6 linked regions of the Homo sapiens genome follow. The protein of the gene in region 5 purifies or fractionates together with the protein of the main gene of each other region. This does not show direct contact. Each region holds a gene or a part of one and is shown on either strand. Other genes may lie near its edges.

Region 1 (3,500 bases), on a different chromosome or scaffold from region 5:
CAGATAACCAGGAACACCCGACATTCCCGCCTCCCTCCTGGCAAAATGGTGGAGGCAAAGGACACACCTTAGGGGAATCCCAGCTGGACCCACAGGCGCCAGGGGCAGCTCTGCTGTGGGCTGCATGCTTGCTTATGACGGCGGTGATGATGGTGAGGTATTAATAAAAAGGAGCTTGAAATTCATCTGTTTCAAACATCTCCTTTTACAGGTGAATCAATGAAGTCTTGGGAGATGAAGTGATCTGGCTGATGTCACTCACTGTGAGTGTTGGGCCTGGGATCCGGATGAGACTTTGAGACTCTGGATGCAGAGCTCTTCGTAACTTACTGGAAGCTGACCAGCTCCTCAAAGTCACCTCCCATATACCACTCAGGAGGACAGGGCAGCCTTTCACGTCGGAAGTGGGAGAAGAGCCCCAAAGGTGGCGCTCTGGCTCAGGAATCAAAGGAATTGGGTCCCAGCCGCAGCCCCGGCACCAGCAAGCACAAAAGGCTTATCCTCCCAAGGATGCCCTGGGAGCCTCTGGGGGTCCCGCTGGGCTCCCTCACCTGGGCATGGGCCCTGAGAAGTGCTCCATTTCATCAACTTGGTATCTGCACTTCTTGGTAGGATTTTACCAAATAAAGAGTTCAGAGCTAAGTAAGTTTAAAACCACGGAATACATGGTCCTGCCCAGTACATTTAGCACCCATCATTTTGGCTATGGTGGCCGAGGTCTTGGGGTGCAGGGGTGATGGCTTTGCTTCTGTTCACCAATAGGGGGAGAGAGATACGCACTCTGACGCTGAAGAAGAAAGGGAAGGCCAGGTCAGGCTTTCCCCATCTCTCTTCTCCAACCTGCAGTCAGGTGGAAGTTCAAAGGGCCAGAACCAGAGTGTTCACAGGCCAGGGACGTCACTGGGCACGCACCTCATCTGCCACCCCCATAAGAGGACCAGCATACCCTGTCCTTGTGGGGCAGGGCTGCCATGGCAAGGGAATGCCCATGCAACTGCAAGGCCTGCTGGGAGGAGCTGGGGAGGGGGCTGGTTGGAGGGCGATGAGCAGCCTGCTACCCATTCATCTTACAGCCAGAGGGAAGAGCGATGGCAAGCACCACACTGCCTGGCTGCTTGTCCCCACAGGGCATGCTAACGACTCCCCCTCAGTCCCATGACCTCGCGGCTTCAGGGGTAGCTCAGAGACTTGCAGATGGAAAGACGGGTTTCCATTCTTCCTTCCCAGCACCCATCAAGGCGAAATCTCCCACTCTAGATCAAGGGCCAAGTCATCGAACTTCTCTGGGCCACCACTGTCTCCCTCTCACTTGGCGATGGAATCTGAGGGAACACCTGTAGGTAAAGCCAGGGAAGGGGCTAGGACAGCACAATGGGTTCTAGTCAACAATGGGGCTCTGGCCTTGGCGTGGGGAGGCCTGGGGGTGGCTACCGTGTGTGGCACAAATACCAAGGTGCAGCATCTTAGGGTGGGCTTCTAGTGAAGAAAGAGGGGATGTGGGTGCCTGGAGAGGGAGGGTGAGCACCTCCCCCTACCCGGTGCCAGGTGTAAACTCAATGCCATTGGCTCTGCTAGACTAACTGGAATCATCCACCGAGCATGGTATCACATCTCAACAATCTCCCAGTGCCAGAGTGCGAACCCAGGTCATCTCCAATGGCCTTCTTTCCTCGCTTGCAGACCTGGGTGTTCTATCAGCAGAGCGGCAACCAGGGAAGCTATGGCTCAGTTCTGCTTCCCCAGTTTTGGAAACTCCAGGAACAGGAATGCTAGGAGCTGTAGTCAGGAAGATCCCCCGCCCAACCCACCCATGCCTGCACTGCCCAGGACCTGCTGCAGAGGGATACCAGCAGCTTGCGGCCCTTGCTCTTCCAGAAGCCATTTTAGGCTGAGCAGGGAAGGAAGGAGGGCTCCTCTCCGCCTTGCCACCATCTTAATCCAGAGCCCCATAAAGCAAGACCGCCACTTCGCCACACTTACGCGGCCCCTCTATGTTCTCCTGCTCTCCCTTCCCCTTTCACACACAAATACGCTCCCCACACACTGCAGAACCACTGCCAGCTCTTTCACAACCAGCTTTTCCCATCAAATAGCTGCACGGCCTGAGGGTTGGCGGCCATCTCTCGGGACCCCCACCCTCCACCCACTGTGGACCTCCGAGACCCTGGCCGCAGGTGTTTCATCAGCTCCAGGACGGAACATCCAGGACTGCGAGAAAAGGAGGGAAGTGTGCGATTTGAGGAGCAGGTGAGGGCAACAGCTCGGGTTGGGGAATCTGCATCTCCTACCTCTGCCTCTCAGTCACTCTGTGCCCGCTACTGGCCAGAGTCCTGGGTCCTTGCCCATTCATCACACCCTGGCCCCACAATGCACAATCGCCTCTCCATGGAAGGTGTTTCCTTCAAGAAAAGCGGCCTTCGGTGTTTGTACTGTGAGGCCGACTGTTGTAAAACTCCACGCAGCCAGGATTCTATGTGACTCAGTCAGTTGCACAAACCCAAGTGCAGATGAGGGAAAGCAACTTCTTTCGATACAGGCCCCTCCTTTCCAGACCCAGGAAACTGCCGAGGACCTACCTGTGCTCTGCCCTGTCAACGCCTGAGGCTTAGTGCCTAGCACACCATTTTCATGTGGTTTGGGGGTGTCCTTTCCTAGTCCCTGACCAAAGCTAGTTCAAGGCCCCCAAAACACAGTCTTTATAACTGCCTCTGTATCCCTCTGGGCCTCTGTCCTCAGTCTCTGAATCCCAGGCTCCCTACTCTGGCCCCGGAGCTGGCAGCCAGCCCAAAGATCTGGGCAAGAAGGCCACGGGTGGGGGATGGGATCCCCGGTTTTCGAGAATGGGTCTAGACGGAATCTGGGGATCTGCCCACACCCCGGTAACTCCACCCAGCACCCCTACCCCAATCAGAGATCAGAGAGGAGGAAGGGGCAGTTAGACCCCAAAAGATCTGTTAGTCAAGAGACAGTGTTGAGCAGAGCTCTGGCTATCAACAGCTGGGCAGTGGGGGAGTTTAGGGTCGGGGGTCAGCTGTCCTTGGGCCAGAGAGAAAGAACTGGCTGACCCCTCCCCCACAGTGAATCATGATGAGAGAGGAAGGAGACAGCCGAGCCTGGGAGACAAAATGACAGGTCACTGGAGGACTGACCTCTCGGGCCCGGGCCAGACAGCAGAAGGGAAGGAAGCCAGAGTGACCACTATCCAAAAGGCAGCAGGGGTCCACAGGGGTCCTAAGAACCGCCCCCAGGGCTGCAGGAAGGATAACGGACTCTCCCACCAAGGGGCACAGGGCGCATGTGCACGCCATGAGGCCTGGCCTGCATCCAGGAGAACAGGACTACAGAAAACCAGCAAGGGGAAACCTGTGCCCTAGATGAACAGGCAGGGGGCCGGGAGGACTCCACACTCAAGCCTGCAAGTGCAGAACACACAGGTCCTGCTAGAAACACGTAAGGGCAGCCAGAAAAGGAAAGCCATCATATCCACTTTAGTCGGAACA
Region 2 (3,500 bases), on a different chromosome or scaffold from region 5:
CTTTGAAAAACATCATTCTCGGAGCTCCGGAAAAACATCCCCTCGGAGCTCCCGCTGTCAGATCCGGGTCTCCAGGGCTCATATTCAGTAACAGAAGCCGCACCTTCACGGCCCACTGCGCAATTCAGACCCTAGTCAACCTCCAGCCAACAGGCTGAGGGGCACACTGGCTGGAAGCATGGAAGGGAAAAAAAGTTTTTTTTTTTAAACATAAGGAACATCCGAAGTTTATCTGGACAACGAGGAATCTTGCATTAAAAAAGGAAAACAAATGACATCACATGTGCTACTTACATTTACTCTCTGAGCTCGGGAGAGGGCCGGCCCCGGCCCGGGGCGGCGGGAAGGAGAGGCAGCCCAGTCCCAGCTGTGGGCTCTTCTCGGCCTCCTTATACACCACCTGAAAGACACAAGGTGGCCACGCCCGGCTCAGGACAGGGACCCGGAAGCCAAGGATGGACGTGGCAAATGCCCATGACAGCGCATGGTCAACAGGTGTGCCTGCCATGACAGCTGGTCCTGCTGCCACCGGGAGAGACGGAAGCACGAACCCCGCAGTCCCGAGAGCTGAGATCACCCAGCCACCCTCTCTCGTGTCCTGCTGAGGAGCCCACCCTTTGAGACACAGGCAGCAAATGTGTGCCCTGTGATTACAGACGGGAGACCACTGCAGCCACCATCATCCAGCAAGGGAGTGGGCTCAGCCTTCCCTCCGTGATAAGAGGATACAGAGAACACTTGCACCAACACAGCAGAGGCCCCGGGAGCAGCAGACACAGACCCGAGGTGGGGGCATCTGTGCCCGAGAGCCTGGCAAGCAAAGGACAGCGGCCCAGGCTCAGTGGAAGGCGGGCAGCCCCTACGCCCCTGAAGAGCCCCAGGTAAGGGAGTCACCTGGCCTGGTTCATGCCTTTAAAGCATGCTCTGCTGCTGTGTGGCGAAGGGATTTGGAGAATGCAGGAATCACAGGCAAACCTTCAGGACCTGTGTGGCCAGCCCTGCTCGGGCTCACCTGTCCAGACACCCTGGCCTCCAGCCACACAAGCCACTGGCCACGTCAGGAGGCCCCTCTGCCTGAAACACCCTTTCTGCCCAGACACCGCGCAGCTCCTCCTCCTGGTCTTCACTTAAACACCCCTCCAGGATGCATCCCCGGCAGTGGCTGATCTGGCATGCGCAGCCCCAGCCACTCACTGGCCTCTTCATCGAATCCAAGCCGCCTTTCACTCAGCTCTGTCGGTTACAGGTCAACACCAGGAGGGCAGCATTTGTCTCTGGCTCCCAGCGCAGTGCCCGCTGCACACATGGATGCGTGGCCCACTCCTCGGGGCCTTTGCATTTCCTGTTCCCTTGGCCTGGAACGCTCCCTCCCCGAGTCCCTGATCACTGGTGCAGCATCTGTGCCTGCGATCCCTCGCTGGTGGCCACTCCCTGCCACCCCGTGGAGACACCCAGCTCTCCAGCCCCTTCCCTGTCTCTCCAGCCGCACTCTGCAAGTGCAGGGGTCTGTCTCTTCTTCTCTGGCTGCGGCCCAGAGCACAGTGCCTGGCACGACAGCAGATGCCCAGTGTTTGGGGGCAGGAGACCCTGGCCACTCTGTACAGCACAGGGATCTGCATCCAGACAGACCACAAAGGAGAAAACTGGACTGGGGTGGCAGCGGCAGAGGACAGGCCAGGGCAAGGCCCACTTCAGACCCTTTGGGCAGCGTGGAGGAGGAAGAACAAAGGCCAGGGCAGGGCCAGACGCGTGAAATGTCACAGTAGCAAGTTTACGGTGATGGAAGTGCCCGGTTAAATAATAAACCACAATCAAGAAAGCAAAGTGAAGGAGCAGTTTCCCACCGCCCTCCCCAACAGCCTGCTCAGGCAGAAACACGTGTTCCAGACTTACTATCTTGGGATCATTAATGGCTGCAGGATGCCCAAACTCCGTGATCATTTTCCAAGTCACGTGATTAAGGATGCGCACCTGAGGAAGGAAACCATGCACAGGTGAGGCAGGGCCCGGCCCGCTGGGCGGTCGGACTTCCTGAGTGCCCTGCACTGGTTCCCACCTTTCCATCATAGCTCCCAACTGCCAGGAACTGACTGCTGGGGCTCCAGGCCACAGACTTGATGCCCAGGGACCACTCGTAAGCGCTGTACGTGGACAACAACCGGCCATCCAATGAGTACAGCAGAATCTTGTACTGCAGATGAGACATTTCAGTTAATAATGAATACACCCCCGTCGCCAGGAACACACCACAGACGCGGGTGCTGCAGAGTGACATTGGTGCAGATAGCACAAAGCTGGCAGGACTGTCCGCGTGGCCGTGGAAAAGCTGGAACTGCCAGCTAGTACTGAGATAGTCACGGAGAGGCAGTGAGAGCATGAGGAAAAAGGGGAAATTGGGAGGTCAACCTAATGGCTCGCTGATAAAAGTTCAACTCGGCCGGGCACTGTGGCTCACGCCTGTAATCCCAGCACTTTGGGAGGCCGAAGCTGGCAGATCACTTGAACACAGAAGTTCAAGAGCAGTCTGGGCAACACGGTGAAACCCCATCTCTACAAAGAATACAAAAATTAGCCGGGCGTGGTGGTGCATGCTTGTGGTCCCAGCTACTTGGGAGGCTGAGGTAGGAGGATCACTTGAGTCCAGGAGGTCGAGGCTGCAGTGGGCCGTGATCACACCACTGCACTCCAGCCTGGGTGACAGAGCAAGACCCTGTCTTTTAAAACAAAGCTCAACTTGTTATCTGAAATAAGATAAAGCAAACTATATTGCAGCATTCAGAAAGCATGAAATTCCGGGAAAAGCTCTCGAAAGCAAACATGTCACCTGGTCATCTTCATACCTCCAAGCAGGTGTCCCACACTGCCAGCACACAGCCGTTTGGGGCCCACTCAATCCCTGTGAGATCCTGGGTGTCCGTATCAAAATGCTTCCAAAGGAAGGGGGGGAAACATTAAATTTGGAAAATATTTTCGTAAATAAATAATTGCATTTATGACTGATGTTCTTAACGCACTTAATTTCCTTATATAGAAATTGACAAAATCTCAACAGCTCTATCCTGGAAATGCATGAAATCCCTGTAGAGCTGCTGCTGGGGCTGCACCGCCACAGATGCCAGCGTCAGTGCCTGGCCAGCCCCCAAGGGCGGCTTGGTCTCCCCGCGCCTGCACTCGTGTGCACACTCTCCCCCTCACCTTTCCTTGCCTGGCCAGCCCCCGAGGGCGGCTTGGTCTCCCCGCGCCTGCACTCGTGTGCACACTCTCCCCCTCACCTTTCCTTGCCTGGCCAGCCCCCGAAGGTGGCTTGGTCTCCCCGCACCTGCACTCATGTGCACACTCTCCCCCTCACCTTTCCTTGCCTGGCCAGGCTCACTCCTTTAGACCCAGCTCAGACAAGTCCCTTCCAGAGCACTGCCTGGATCCCGGGTTCTGCACTCTGACAGCATTCCAGAGGTTGCTCTACCTTAATGATGGATTGTGCTGGAATCGTGTTCATATGT
Region 3 (3,500 bases), on a different chromosome or scaffold from region 5:
CCTTGCCTTCTTGCTCCCATCAGAACCCTCCTGGCATCATGAGCATCCTGGATGACGTGTGCGCCACGATGCATGCGGTGGGTGAGGGGGCAGATCAGACGCTGCTCCAGAAACTTCAGATGCAGATTGGGAGTCATGAGCACTTCAACAGTTGGAACCAAGGCTTCATCATTCATCATTATGCTGGGAAGGTATGGCCAATATCCATTTTAATGTCTATCTGTTTTAAGCCTTTGGGTTTGTGATCTGGTTTCTCATGAAGCAAATCATATGGCTCGCCGTATTTTATTGATTCAACAAACGGAATTTATTAACTATCAAAGGAAGCAAAACAAAAGATTGTATATACTACTGCATTTTTTTGTATGTACATTTATTTTTACATTGTAGAAGAAGCTACTACTTTTTTACAGCATATAAATGAACATAGGTATAAACCAGCAAGAATGAAAGAAATAGCATATATCTAATGAAAAGAGTCGGAATTTCTAGAACACAATAAATACCTACATCCTACTTTTTGGGAACCAAATGCCAACTACATATATATAACATGGCAAGTGCTGCTACATCAGAGGTACCAAAAATACTTAGGAATTGTAAATAAGTATCGTCCAGCACGTGGATGCTCAATAAAAGAGCTGGAGGACTAAATAAATAGGAAAATCACTCTACCTACTTTCCTGTTTCCATCTTTTAGGAATTCAAGTTTATTCAAAATTTCGTTATATAATCCTGTATCTATGATCTCTTCAATAATTTCGGAATGGTAGTTTTAGGCAACTTTAAAGCTTAAGCTTATTCTGAATTTCCCAGAGTGTTTTTGCACTTTTTTTCAGATGGGCCTCTTCTTCAGGGGTCAGCTTTATCTTTATAAGGTTGGTAATACCGTTCTCTCCCAGGATACAAGGAATACTGAGGAATACTTCTTCATCTATTCCATAGAGGCCCTTAATTATGGTGGAAACTGGATGTATTCTCCTAAGATTCTTCAAAATACTTTCTGTTAAATCGGCCACAGATAGGCCAATGGCCCAAGAAGTATAACCTTTCATTTTAATAATCTCATAGGCAGTTGCAGTCACTTCTTTGTGGACATTTTTCCATTGCTCAGGATCTTTATCAGTTCCTATATCAGAGTTCAGATCCTTCAAAGGGACACCAGCTATGTTCACTCCACTCCACACAGGAACACTTGAGTCTCCATGCTCTCCGAGGATCCATCCATGGCAGCTTTCAGAATGGATACCAAGCTTTTGTCCAATCAAGAAACGAAAACGAGCAGTATCCAGATTACAGCCGCTTCCAATAATACGGTTTTTGGGAAATGCACTCAACTTCCAAGCTACATAAGTTAAGATATCCACTGGATTGGAAACAATAATCAGTTTGCAGTGGGGGCTGTACTGGACAATACTGGAAATCATTAACTTGAAGATGGCCACATTTCGCTGGACTAAATTAAGGCGCGTTTCTCCCTTTTCTTGGCGTGCACCTGCTGTGATAATCACTAGGTTGGAGTTTGCTGTGACAAAGTAATCTTTGCTACAAACAATATTTGGCATTTTCGTGAAAGGGCTGCCATGTTGAAGATCCATCGTCTCACCCTTCAGTTTGTCTTCATCAAGATCCACAAGGGCAAGTTCATCACTCAAGCCTTTTAATAAGATGCTGATAGCGCAGGCCATGCCCACCGATCCAGTTCCTATGATGGAGACCTTACTGTGATGAACGGGCTTCTCGGAAGTGAAACGCTCAATAAGCTCACTCTTCACAGTCGCCATCTTGCTCACGGGGGTGAAGAGCCAGGTGCCGTTGAGCGGGATGCGCGTTGCTTGACGCGGACACAGGGCCATCCCCAGGCATAGGAAATTCGCTCCCACCGAGCTCACTCTCTGGCTGGCCCGCACAACAGGCACAGTCCAACTCATGGCTGCTCACTGAAGAAGTGGAGAGAGAGAATGGAAAAAAGCTGCTGATCCGAACGTTGAGACGCCAAGAGAGCCGTTGGCAGGACCTTCAGCACTCTACGGCAGGTGCGCGTGCCCCGCCCCCTGGCCCTCTACTGCGGCTGCGCGGGCCTTGCCAGAGTCTCCGACACGTGCTTTCCGTGGGTGCTCAGACTAAGGCAGTGAAGGGCTGCTTCTCTAGCAAGTGATTTCTGGAGTTAGTTTTGCTAAGAGTATTATCAATAGTTGACATGCTTAAGAGGCTAACCGAGATCCCTGGAATTACTAGTTTTTTATTTTTAATATGAATGCTGAGGAAACATGCTTCTGTTAACTACAGATGAAAATAAGGTTACGTTTTCTGAACCGTGACCCTGCCAGGAAGGATAGGGCTCTATGCTTTGCGTACTGGTGGCTGCCTGCACCATCTCCCAGTGTCCCAGAATTGGGCGCCTGCTTTCTGGTCTATGGCGCTGGAGGCCTATTTTGAAAGGATTCCACTGCCTTGGTGCCAGTCCTGGCCAGGACCCACCCTGGGACAGTCGGCTGGGGCTTCAGCAGGGTAGGGGCCGGCTGGGAGTCACTCCAGCACTAAATCTCAGCATACTACTGCATATTTTTGGAAAATGAATCACCCTGCTACATGTATTAGCTGCTGAATAAATGGATTTTCGTCTTGCCTCTTGCTGGAATCACAGACTGGCATTCCTTGTCTCCCCATGCCTACTGGTAGTATAAATCAAGGCCCAGAGTGCACTTTTGGTGTTCTTATAAAGCCCATCAGTATTGGGTGCCTACTGGATGCCAGGCTGTGTGGGGCTGCTGATGATAAAAAAGTTAAGTTGAGGTCGTGGTCTTGGGGACTTCCTAGTGCTATGGAAATCCCCTGGTCTCATCCATCATCCCAGCTGATCTCTTGTTAAACAGAGTATCTGAGCATGAGTTTCTGGCCAGATTGGTGCAACTTTGATACCACTTCTGGGAGAAACTGCAAAGCCTCAGATGACATGGCTCATTGCAGTGAATTACTGAGCATGAGGGGCTTCACTTTTGCTCTGGCTTAGCTAAAATTTAGGAAAAGTATTGAGTATGTCACTTAGACACCCCTATGGATCCACTGAAGAAGGGGTATGGGGACTTGAGAGCTGGAGTTCTGATTACGGATCAGCTGGGCCATCCAGGCAGCCAGATACTCATCAGCATCTGCAGGCCTTCCCCACTAAGTCAGCTAACAAGTAAGACGTGCACAGCCTTCCTGTGACAGTGCACAATGAAATCCCAAATGCAACATCTGGAAATCCACATGTTGTGGTGAGGGTAGCCATGACAGCTTTGGTTTTTTGTTTGGTGAAATTAGATTTTTTGTTCAATAAATGATTTTGTTCAATTAATTACATTTTGTTCAATGAAATTCGATTTCTTTCCATTCTTGGCCAGGTATCCTATGACATGGATGGCTTTTGTGAAAGGAACCGGGATGTGCTTTTTATGGATCTCATCGAGCTTATGCAGAGCAGCGAGCTGTAAGTATGTTTTGCCATAGCTGACAGG
Region 4 (3,500 bases), on a different chromosome or scaffold from region 5:
TTGACCTGGGCCTGGAACGGTCTAGTGTAGGATCAGGCAACACTGCTGGTGGTGGCGGCAGCAGTGGGACTCTTACTCCAGCCAGCCAGCCCGGCACTCCTTCGCCACTGGATGGGCCGCGGCCCTTTCCTGCTGCTCCTGGCCGCCACAGCTCCAGTCTCTCCAATGTGCTGGAGGACGGCAGCCTCCCGGAGCCCACCATTAGCGGGGATGATACCTCGAACACCAGCAACCCACAGGTGAGGTGGGCCCACCCTCTGCCACTGCATGGTACCCAAGGGAGGACACTTCTGGTACACAGGGCTGGCAGTGTAGCCTCTCCAAAGGTGTGGCCCTGTCTGACCAGGGTTGCAGCCACTGGTCAGGCCTATTGCTGTCCCCTCATAGCTCTCATCTGCAGTTGTGTTCCCAGAGGGCTCCTGGAACAGGGTGAGTCATGATGAGCCACAGTGGGTGACACCAGCCAGGCTTCAGAAGGGCCCTCAAGAGAGCCTGTAGGGCAGACACCTCACAGGGTCCAAGGGCAGCAAACTCCAAAGGCCCTGCCCTGGGCTTCTGGGTTTGGGGATGGGCCTCTGCTTGTTCTATGTGAACTGCCTCATCTCCTCTTGGGAGTCTGGCAAGACCCCAGGATTCTGCCTGGAACTCAGGTAGTAGTTGAGACCCCTATACCATTCTTCCAGGCCCTTAGTGCCAGGCTCACTGTTAGCCAAATGCTCTGACTCCTGGGTGGCTACCCCAGGAGGGGTGCTGAGTGGGGATGGGTGGGCGTCAGCCTGATTCCCTCCCTTAGCCGCCCACAACCCACGCCCACACCACCCACCTGTGCCCACAGCAAACCTCTGAGGAAGAGTTGTGCAATCTGCTCACCAACGTGCTGTTCTCGGTGACGTGGCGTGGCGTGGAAGGCAGCGATGAGGCTGCCTGGCGGGAGCGTGGCCAGGTTTTCTCAGTGCTCACCCAGCTGGGGGCCTCAGCCACACTTGTGCGCCCACCAGACTGCATCAAGCGCAGGTGAGAGGGAAAGTCTGGAGGGGGAGGGGCTTCAGGAAGCCTCGGGGGAAGGAGAGAAGATAGTCAGGTAGACCCTTGAGTTCCCCACTCACCCGCCAGCCTCCTGGAGATGATGCTGGAGTCAGCCCTGACCGACATCAAAGAGGCCCCCGTGGGGGTCCTGGCCAGCCTCACCCAGCAAGCGCTTTGGCTGCTGCGTCTGCTGCAGGACTTCCTGTGTGCTGAAGGCCATGGTAACCAGGAACTGTGGAGTGAGAAGGTGCGACCCCTCAGAGAGGCGTGAGCCACATGAACACTCATGTTCATGCAAGCCTGCAGGGATCTGGTCTGGGAGGTGGATGGGTACACGTGCGCAGGTGTGGGTGCATCAGCATGAATGCCTGTGAGTGTGGACTTGCCTGTGTGCACAAACCCTACCTGGCCCCCAGCGCAAACTTTACTTTGCTCCCTTTCCATGGACTCCTGGCCTCCCCTGGTGATGTCTGTTGGGAACCTGTTTTCTGTGGCAGCTCTTTGAAGGTGTATGCAGCCTACTTGATCGCCTGGGAGCCTGGCCCCACCTGGCCAACGGCACAGCTGATCTCCGTGAGATGGCGCAGATTGGCCTACGGCTTGTACTTGGCTACATCCTGCTGGAAGACCCACAGGTGAGCACAGGGTGAGCATGGGGGCAGGGGGCGTGTGAGATGTCGGGAGCTCCAAGAGTGGCTGGGTGCCACTCATCTCTCTTGCGCCCACAGCTGCATGCCCAGGCCTACGTGAGATTGCACATGCTGCTACAGACTGCAGTGCCAGCCCGCCGCGAGGAGGCCTGCTATGTGCTCTCCAAGCTGGAGGCTGCACTGGGGCGGGTGCTGAACACCTCTTCCTTGGAGTCAGCCACTGATGAGGCAGGGTCCCCACTTGCAGCTGCAGCAGCTGCAGCAGCTGCAGAGCGCTGCTCCTGGCTGGTGCCACTGGTGCGCACGCTGCTAGACCGTGCCTATGAGCCGCTGGGGCTGCAGTGGGGACTGCCCTCCCTGCCACCCACCAATGGCAGCCCCACCTTCTTTGAAGACTTCCAGGCTTTTTGTGCCACACCCGAATGGCGCCACTTCATCGACAAACAGGTGCCTGGAGGTTGGGGCCCAGGAAGAGGAGTGGGGGCTGGGGCCCACATCGAGCACTGTTCTCCTCTGCCCAATCCTCCAGGTACAGCCAACCATGTCCCAGTTCGAAATGGACACGTATGCTAAGAGCCACGACCTTATGTCAGGTTTCTGGAATGCCTGCTATGACATGCTTATGAGCAGTGGGCAGCGGCGCCAGTGGGAGCGCGCCCAGAGTCGTCGGGCCTTCCAGGTGTGCCACCCGGGGTAAGGGATGGGAAACTGCTCCACACATGCACCCAGGAGATGACTGACAATGTGGAGAAACGGGTAGGGCAGGCAGCAGCCAGGGGACTGACCTATTACCCCCACCCCAGGAGCTGGTGCTGGAACCTGCGCAGAGGCGGGCGCGCCTGGAGGGGCTACGCTACACGGCAGTGCTGAAGCAGCAGGCAACGCAGCACTCCATGGCCCTGCTGCACTGGGGGGCGCTGTGGCGCCAGCTCGCCAGCCCATGTGGGGCCTGGGCGCTGAGGTGGGCCGGGCTTGGGGCAGGGTCGCTGTGGAGGGGTGGGGCTTGGGAGGGAGGGAGCCACCTGGAGCCCCAGACTGCCTTTGGGGTGAGGCCAGGGAGGGATGGGGGTGTCTACAGCCTTCTACCGACCCATGACCTGGGGGACATTCTGCAGGGACACTCCCATCCCCCGCTGGAAACTGTCCAGCGCCGAGACATATTCACGCATGCGTCTGAAGCTGGTGCCCAACCATCACTTCGACCCTCACCTGGAAGCCAGCGCTCTCCGAGACAATCTGGGTGAGGGAGTGTGCTGAGATGGGTCCACCCAACTCGATTGTCCCGTCTCCTGTCCTGCCTTGCTTCTGCTGAGTACCCTTGGCCCCTTGCAGGTGAGGTTCCCCTGACACCCACCGAGGAGGCCTCACTGCCTCTGGCAGTGACCAAAGAGGCCAAAGTGAGCACCCCACCCGAGTTGCTGCAGGAGGACCAGCTCGGCGAGGACGAGCTGGCTGAGCTGGAGACCCCGTGAGTGGGGCCCTGGAGAGATTGGACTGGTGTGGTGGGCAAGGGGTCTGCTCCAGTGTGTGCATGCCTCTGTGGGATCAACTCCCTGAGTGTGTCCTCTTCTGCTGCCCGACTACGTCCCCCTGAAGGGACTGTCCAAAGCCAGATGGTGAGTGGGAGAGTCTCCTAACAGGGCTGAGAGTTGCTCTTTTAACAGCCAGGCACCTGAGGACAGCACTGAGAAACACAAACCAGAGCAGGAAGGGGGCCCAGGGAGTGGGCAGGGGCTGGGTGAGGGGAGCAGGGGACAAGGGTTGGCATCCTGGCAAAATATTCAGAAGCCCAGTGGGTGGCAGGTGGGGGACAGGGGCTGGGAC
Region 5 (3,500 bases):
GTGCAATGGCGCGATCTCAGCTCACCACAACCTCTGCCTCCTGGTTTCAAGTGATTCTCCTGCCTCAGCCTCCTGAGTAGCTGGGATTACAGGCAGGAGCCACCACGCCCGGCTAATTTTGTATTTTTAGTGGAGACGGGGTTTCACCATGTTGGGCAGACTGGTCTGGAACTCCAGACCTCAGGTGATCCGCCTGCCTTGGCCTCCCAAAATGCTGGGATTACAGGCACGAGCCACCGTGCCTGGCCTGCAATTTTTAATCAAGCATGTACCAGCGAGGAAAAGTTCACAAGCCCAGCCTTAACTTGATGTTTTTTAAAAAAGGGCATGAGGCCGGGCGTGATGGCTCACACCTGTAATCCCAGCACTTTGGGAGGCCAAGATGGGTGGATCACGAGGTCAGGAGATGGACACCATCCTGGCTAACACAGTGAAACCCCATCTCTACTAAAAATACAAAAAAAAAAATTAGCCGGGCATGGTGGCGAGCGCCTGTAGTCCCAGCTACTCGGGAGGCTGAGGCAGCAGAATGGCGTGAACCTGGGAGGCGGAGCTTGCAGTAAGTCGAGATCACGCCACTGAACTCCAGCCTGGCAGCCTGGGCGACAGAGTCAGACTCCATCTCAAAAAAATAAAATAAAATAAAATAAAGGGCATGTAATAGGAAGTTAACACTACGTAATATTTTAGTTTCATTAAGGTACAGTGGCTCACGCCTGTAATCCCAGCACTTTGGGAGGCTGGGGCTGGAGGACTGCCGGAGCTCAGGAGTTCGAGACCAGCCTGGGCAACGTGGCGAATCAAGATTCAAATCCAAGTCTGACTCCCTCAGAAGTCAAAATTCTCCTAAGTATATGATAGAAAACTATCTGTAGTCTAAAACAAGCAAACTAAAAGTTATCATTACCAGATTAGGAAACATGTTTTAAAATATGATGCTTAGGGCAAGGTGCTCACGCCTGTAACCCCAGCAATTTGGGAGGTCAAGGCGGGAGGATCACTTGAGGCCAGACCAGCATGGGCAACAGAGCAAGACTGTCTTAAAAAATTAGCCAGCATGTGGCCGGGTGCAGTGGCTCACGTCTGTAATTCCAACACTTTGGGAGGCGGAAGCAGGCAGATCACAAGGTCAGGAGATGGAGACCATCCTGGCTAACACAGTGAAACCCCATCTCTCTTTTCTTTTTTTGAGACGGAGTCTTGGTCTGTCGCCAAGGCTGGAGTGCAATGGCGCGATCTTGGCTCACTGCAACCTGCACCTCCCGGATTCAAGCAATTCACTGCCTCAGCCTCCCAAGTAGCTGGGATTACAGGTGCCCGCCACCACGCCTGGCTAATTTTTTTTTTATTTTTAGTAGAGATGGGGTTTCACCATCTTGGCCAGGCTGGTCTTGAACTCCTGACCTCGTGATGCACCCGCCTCGGCCTCCCAAAGTGCTGGGATTACAGGCGTGAGCCACCACGCCCGGCCACCCCATCCCCCTGCAAAACATTAGCCAGGCATGGTGGTGGGCGCCTGTAGTCCCAGGTACTCAGGAGGCTGAGGCAGGAGAACGGCATGAACCCAGGACACAGAGCTTGCAGTGAGCCGGGATCGCACCACTGCACTCCAGCCTGGGTGACAGAGCAAGACTCCATCTCAAAAAAAAAAAAAAAAAAAAAAAAAAAAAATTAGCCAGGTGTGGTGGTGTACTATTGCAGTCCCAGCTACCTGGCAGGCTGAGTGGGGAGGATCTCTTGAGCTCAGGAATTCGAGGCTGCAGAGAATCTCTGCAGGAATCTCTTGGCTGGGTACCAAGAGAACAAGACCCTGACTCAAAAAAAAAGACGCTTAGAAGCCTGAGCTCACACTTGACTCTGGAAACTTTTACCTTGCTTAAGCTGCAAAGGTAAAATATACATCAGTCATGTTTCCTCCCTCTTTTTTTTTTTTTTTTTTTTTTTGAGACAAGGTCTCACTCTGCCATCCAGGCTGGAGTGCAGTGGCACGATCTTGGCTCACTGCAACCTCCGCCTCCTGAGTAGCTGGGACCACAGGCGCATGCCACCACGCCTGGCTAATTTATGTATTTTTTGTACAGACAGGGTTTCACCATGTTGTCCGGGCTGGTCTTGAACTCCTGAACTCAAAGTGATCCGCCCACCCCAGCCTCCCAAAGTACTGGGATTACAGGTGTGAGCCACCACGCCCGGCCCAGTCATGTTTCTTCAATTGGTTATTTAGATTCTGTGCCTTTAATAGATGGAACTGTCAAATATGGAAGTGTTTAGTAACTGAGAGGAGGGCAAAGGTCCTGAAGTCAGGTTGTGGGCTGGGACTTAGCCACCTGCCCCAAATGCTAAAGTCCTGGGATGAACACTGAGCAAAATGGGTTTCACAAGGAAGAACTGGGAGCTCTTCCAACCAGCCTTCTCTCCATGAGCACCCACTTTGGGACTTCGATATGCTGCTCCCATCATGAAGGCTCTGGTTCTTCACTACCCCTCACCTTCAACCTCACTGTCAGTTGGCTCTATCAATGAAATCTCTTTTTAGCTTCTCTCCTGGAAAATTCTCATGTACCTTGGATTCTTTTTTTTTTTTTGAAATGGGGTCTCACTCTGTCACCTGGGCTGGAGTGTAGTGGCGCAATCGTTAACTCCTCTAACTCCTGAGCTCAGGGATCCTCCTGCCTCAGCCTCCCAAACTATTGGCATTACAGGCATGAGCCATAATTCCCGGTTCCCCGCTTTCCTTTATTTTCAAGACCAGTCTTGCTATGTTACCCAGGCTGAAGTGCAGTGGTAACACCATCACTCACTGTAGCCTCAAATTCCTGGGCTCAAGCAATCCTCCCATCCCAGCTTCCCGAGTAGGGCTAGCCTTGGGTTTTTCTTAAAAAATCACCTAACCATCATTTGCTCAGAATTTTAAGGCTAAACAATCAGGATTTTTCATGGTAAAAATCCATTACGCACTGATTAATCAAGCAGCGCCACATCCCCAGAGTCCCCAGGCAAGCACTGACTCATTAGAAATCCCAGTTGTCATGTTCCTGAGCTTGATGCATTCCAGTGTCCCTCAACTGTCAAAAGACTCAGAAATGCTAAATGCTGCACTCTGGATTCAACTCCCTGCTCCTGGGGTTCATCTTCCCTTTTGAAAGCTTTTCCTGTCTGTGGTACTTGCAAGCACAAACCTTGAGGTATTTTTCCAGCATCTTCACTATATGTCTGTTGTTCAAAACACTCTTAGCCACATGGAGACTGGTTTTCTTGAACTGTTCAGCAGCCAACTGCAAAGGGAACCAAATGTGAGCTCTTAAAAATGGCAAAGATTAAGGAAGAGAATAAACCAGCCAGGCTCTGCCGAGTCATCCTGAGATCAGCCCTATGCAGAGAAGCGAATCTCAAAACGCCAGCCTCCAAGAATAGAAGGCTCCAGAGACTGTGCAACCAAGACTAACAAACTGGAAAAGCTAGGCAATCTTAAGAGATAAATGCAAAGATGCACCACTGAT
Region 6 (3,500 bases), on a different chromosome or scaffold from region 5:
CTACCCTCTAGGTTTACGTAAGTACATCCTATGATGTTTGCACAATGACAAAATCACCTAACACCATTTCTCAGAATGTGTCGGCACTGTCAAGGAACCATGCATAACTGTATTTACCATTTCCTTCCTTCTAGTTACTTTGTATCTAATTTGTTCCTTTATTTAGGTTTGTATCTAATTTGTTCCTTTATTTAGGTTGTTAAGGAGGAAACAGACGTCACTGATTTTATACCTTCTTCTTTTCTAATATAGTCATGTAAAGCTATACATTTCCCTCAAAGAACTGTATTAGTTATATCCTATAAATCTGTATATTTTCTTCCATTACTCAGTTCAAATTATTTTCTAATTTCCCTATTAATTCTTCTTTGATCCAGTATGTTAATTTCCTATTTGAGGATTTTCTAGATCTCATATTATTTATTTCTAACTTAAAAGCACAGTAGTCGATAAACATACTCTATAATTTGGGTCCTTTGAAGCTTATTGGGACATTTTAATGGCCCAGCATACGGTCTATCTTGGTGACTGTTCCATATGAACTTGGGAAGAACGTGTTCTCTAGCTTTGTTGGGAGTGGTGTTTAAGAGATGACAGGGTGATTGATGGTACACTTGGGAAGAATGTGTACTCTAGCTTTCTTGGGAGTAGCGTTAAGAGATGACAAGGTGATTGACGGTATTCTTCAGAGCTTCCAAATCCCTATGAGTGTTCTGATCTATCTGTTTTTTCAATAATTGAGAGAAGAAGAGTTAAAAGTCTCCAACCATGATTATGAATCTGAATATAGTTCCCTTTAGTTCTGTCCAATTTTGCTCTTTTGTACAAAAGAGTTATCAGAACAGACCTTACTGTTATGCTTTGAAAGACCAGCTTAGAAGTCTGCCCTTTTGCTGGAGTCTGGGAACTTAGATTTCAAGAGAGTTCCTACCACCTAACTGGTAAGAGGAGCTCACTGTGCCTAAACTGTTTATGTACTGTGGCTTATGCTAAACACGTGTTTCCCTTCTGAGAGTCTGGAATTTTGGACATGCTACACAACATTTCACGTGTGTTGTTACAATTCATTGCTGGAGGAATCAAACGCATCCTGTGTGACTCAACTGAGAGAGGACTCTTGGAAGCTTGTACCCTCTTCCCTCAGACATCCCCCATATGCCTCCTCCCTTTGCTGATCTTGCTCTGTATCCTTCTGCTGGATCAACCTTAGCTGAGAGTATGACTACATGCTGAGTCATGTGAGTCCTCTTAGAGACTCTTCAAACCTGGGAGGTGGTCTTGGAGGCCCCTAACACAAGTGCATACACATTTAGAGATTGTTACGTTTCCTTGATGATCACTGTCTTTATGAGGTGCCCCTTTATTTCTGGGAATACTCTTCACCTTGAAATCTACTTTTTCTGATACTAGTATAGATGCAAAGCTTTCTTTGCTTAGTATGTACATGGTTTATATTTTTCCACCCTTCTACCTGCAACCTGTTTACGTCTTTATGCTTAGAGTGCACTTTTTTGTAAACAACATGTAATTGGGTTTTAAATAACTTTTAACATACGACTTTGGATCAGGAATTCCACTTCTAGGAATTATTCTACAGACATATCTGTACATGAAAAAAATGAGGTTATTCACTGTAGCAGTGCCTATAATAGCAAATGACTGGGAAAAGTCTAAATGTTCATCAATCACGGCCTCACTCAATAAATGATGGCTCATTCATATAAAGAAACACCTTGCGGTCTTAAGAACAATAAAATTTTCTTCATGTAATAACATGAATGATCGATAAGACATACTGCCTGAATTTTTTTGAAAAGCAAGGTACAGTGCCGGGCATGTGGCTACACCTGTAATCCCAGCACTTTGGGAGGTAGAGGCGGGCAGATCACCTGAGCTCAGGAGTTTGAAACCAGCCTGGCCAACATGGTGAAACCCCGACTCTACCAAAAATACAAAAACTTAGCCGGGCATGGTGGCGCACATCTGTGGTCCCAGCTACTTGGGAGGCTGAGGAAGGAGGATCACTTGAGCTCAGGGGGAGGAGGTTTACAGTGAGCTGAGATCACACCACTGCACTACAGCCTGGGTGACAGAGTGAGACTTCATCTCAAAAAAAAAGAAAGAATGGTACAGAACGGAATACAGGAAGTACCATTTGCATTTTAAAAAGGAAAAATAAATGTAGGTATATTTACTTGTATTTGCTTAGAATTTAAGAAAGTTGTACGAAAACACACTGTATCTAGGGTGATACACCAGGTGCCTGGGGATGCCATGGGATGATTCACTTTTCCTCTGCATCCTTGTCAACTTTGAACTACGTGCATTACCTTTTCACAAATAAAAATAAAATGAAATGGGGAAATAAAATTTCCTTTGCAAAACTCCTAGGAAAGAGGGAAGGGCTATCAACTATCCTGTGAGCTTCTGGAAGGCGGCTGAGCCAGACCAGGAGGGTGGCATCCCAGCTAAAGCCGTCGCCCTGGGCAGCTGGCTTCACTCTTAATTAGCAGGTGCTGCTGCTCGTCTATAAAACGGGAGTAAGGTGGTGGCAGCCTCATAGAGCTGCTCTGAGGATTAAGTGAATGAACACAGTGAAGTGCTAGAAGTAAAGCTACAAAAGCAGCAGCCACCACAGTACCTACCACAGTGGCAAAGACACAGCAGGTGCTCAATCCAAGGGCTTGGAATTGAACGATATAGAACATCAGTGATTTAATAATAGTAAATTAGTCACAGACCCGGGGCTCCAACAACTGAATATATGTGAATATCACTCTCCCAGCTGCAGAGGAAAACGGCCTTGCCAAGCCAAATCCTGTAAAAAGGGTTGACAATGGCAAGACTGATCCTTCTCACGCATTCCCACCGGCCACTGGGCCTCACGAGGACAATCCAATCGTGTGGGTGTCCCGTGGGCAGCAGCACAGAAGCACCAGCTTGTCCAGCAGGTTCCCCGCCAGCTGAAGGGCACAGATGGATGTGCCGCCATCAGGGCCTGGGCCTGAGTGTGCCCAAGGCCGTGGTACATCCAGCCACGCACAGAGCTGCCAGAATGCCCGTAGCTCAGCCCCTGCAGTCCTCACTGCCAGGCTGAAAGCGGGCCATGCTGAGCCATGCACAAGGCCACCTGGCTCACAAATAACCCAGGAAATCAGAGTACTTGGGTTTTTAAATTGCTCCACTGTGGGCAGAAAGAAACCCTACCCAGAGTCAAAAGTGCTGACCATGTCATTGAATCATAGATTCTCTTTGCTGATGGGCCACTTTGCATCCGAATACTGCCAAGGCCCAAGGTAATGGGTATGGTGGTATAAGACTCAAACGAGTAAGTGAAAATCAATACAGATGCTCTTTGACCTATGATGGGACTCTATCCTGTTTAAGTTGAAAATGTCATAAGTTCAAATGCATTTAATACCCTTAACCTACTGTACATCAGAGCTTAGCGTGGCCCAGCTTCAACATGGTCAGAACACTTGCATGTTCCTACAACTGGG

Evidence for each region.
Region 1: the proteins of AKAP8 (region 5) and CCND2 purify together in Homo sapiens (affinity purification with western blotting, with the first as the bait; one study listed by BioGRID). This does not show direct contact.
Region 2: the proteins of AKAP8 (region 5) and WRAP73 purify together in Homo sapiens (co-immunoprecipitation; one study listed by IntAct). This does not show direct contact.
Region 3: the proteins of AKAP8 (region 5) and MYO1E fractionate together in Homo sapiens (co-fractionation; one large-scale study listed by BioGRID). This does not show direct contact.
Region 4: the proteins of AKAP8 (region 5) and NBEAL2 purify together in Homo sapiens (tandem affinity purification; one large-scale study listed by IntAct). This does not show direct contact.
Region 6: the proteins of AKAP8 (region 5) and NPHP4 purify together in Homo sapiens (co-immunoprecipitation; one large-scale study listed by IntAct). This does not show direct contact.

Annotation. Positions count from the first base shown.
Region 1 is NC_000012.12:4,280,262-4,283,761, reverse strand, and holds part of CCND2 (G1/S-specific cyclin-D2), read right to left. Parts: intron 1-3,500. UniProt on the Homo sapiens protein: Regulatory component of the cyclin D2-CDK4 (DC) complex that phosphorylates and inhibits members of the retinoblastoma (RB) protein family including RB1 and regulates the cell-cycle during G(1)/S transition.
Region 2 is NC_000001.11:3,633,104-3,636,603, forward strand, and holds part of WRAP73 (WD repeat-containing protein WRAP73), read right to left. Parts: intron 2,928-3,500; coding exon 2,841-2,927; intron 2,192-2,840; coding exon 2,057-2,191; intron 1,972-2,056; coding exon 1,894-1,971; intron 401-1,893; coding exon 295-400; intron 1-294.
Region 3 is NC_000015.10:59,205,372-59,208,871, reverse strand, and holds part of MYO1E (unconventional myosin-Ie), read left to right. Parts: intron 1-23; coding exon 24-191; intron 192-283; exon of another isoform or gene 284-785; coding exon of another isoform or gene 786-1,931; exon of another isoform or gene 1,932-2,029; intron 2,030-3,386; coding exon 3,387-3,472; intron 3,473-3,500. Other genes in the region: LDHAL6B (L-lactate dehydrogenase A-like 6B), read right to left, coding at 786-1,931. UniProt on the Homo sapiens protein: Actin-based motor molecule with ATPase activity. Unconventional myosins serve in intracellular movements. Their highly divergent tails bind to membranous compartments, which are then moved relative to actin filaments.
Region 4 is NC_000003.12:47,000,166-47,003,665, forward strand, and holds part of NBEAL2 (neurobeachin-like protein 2), read left to right. Parts: coding exon 1-239; intron 240-835; coding exon 836-1,014; intron 1,015-1,113; coding exon 1,114-1,273; intron 1,274-1,523; coding exon 1,524-1,661; intron 1,662-1,754; coding exon 1,755-2,123; intron 2,124-2,205; coding exon 2,206-2,355; coding exon of another isoform or gene 2,356-2,369; intron 2,370-2,479; coding exon 2,480-2,637; intron 2,638-2,791; coding exon 2,792-2,916; intron 2,917-3,008; coding exon 3,009-3,144; intron 3,145-3,500. UniProt on the Homo sapiens protein: Probably involved in thrombopoiesis. Plays a role in the development or secretion of alpha-granules, that contain several growth factors important for platelet biogenesis.
Region 5 is NC_000019.10:15,355,788-15,359,287, forward strand, and holds part of AKAP8 (A-kinase anchor protein 8), read right to left. Parts: intron 3,276-3,500; coding exon 3,180-3,275; intron 1-3,179. UniProt on the Homo sapiens protein: Anchoring protein that mediates the subcellular compartmentation of cAMP-dependent protein kinase (PKA type II).
Region 6 is NC_000001.11:5,982,426-5,985,925, forward strand, and holds part of NPHP4 (nephrocystin-4), read right to left. Parts: intron 1-3,500. UniProt on the Homo sapiens protein: Involved in the organization of apical junctions; the function is proposed to implicate a NPHP1-4-8 module. Does not seem to be strictly required for ciliogenesis. Required for building functional cilia.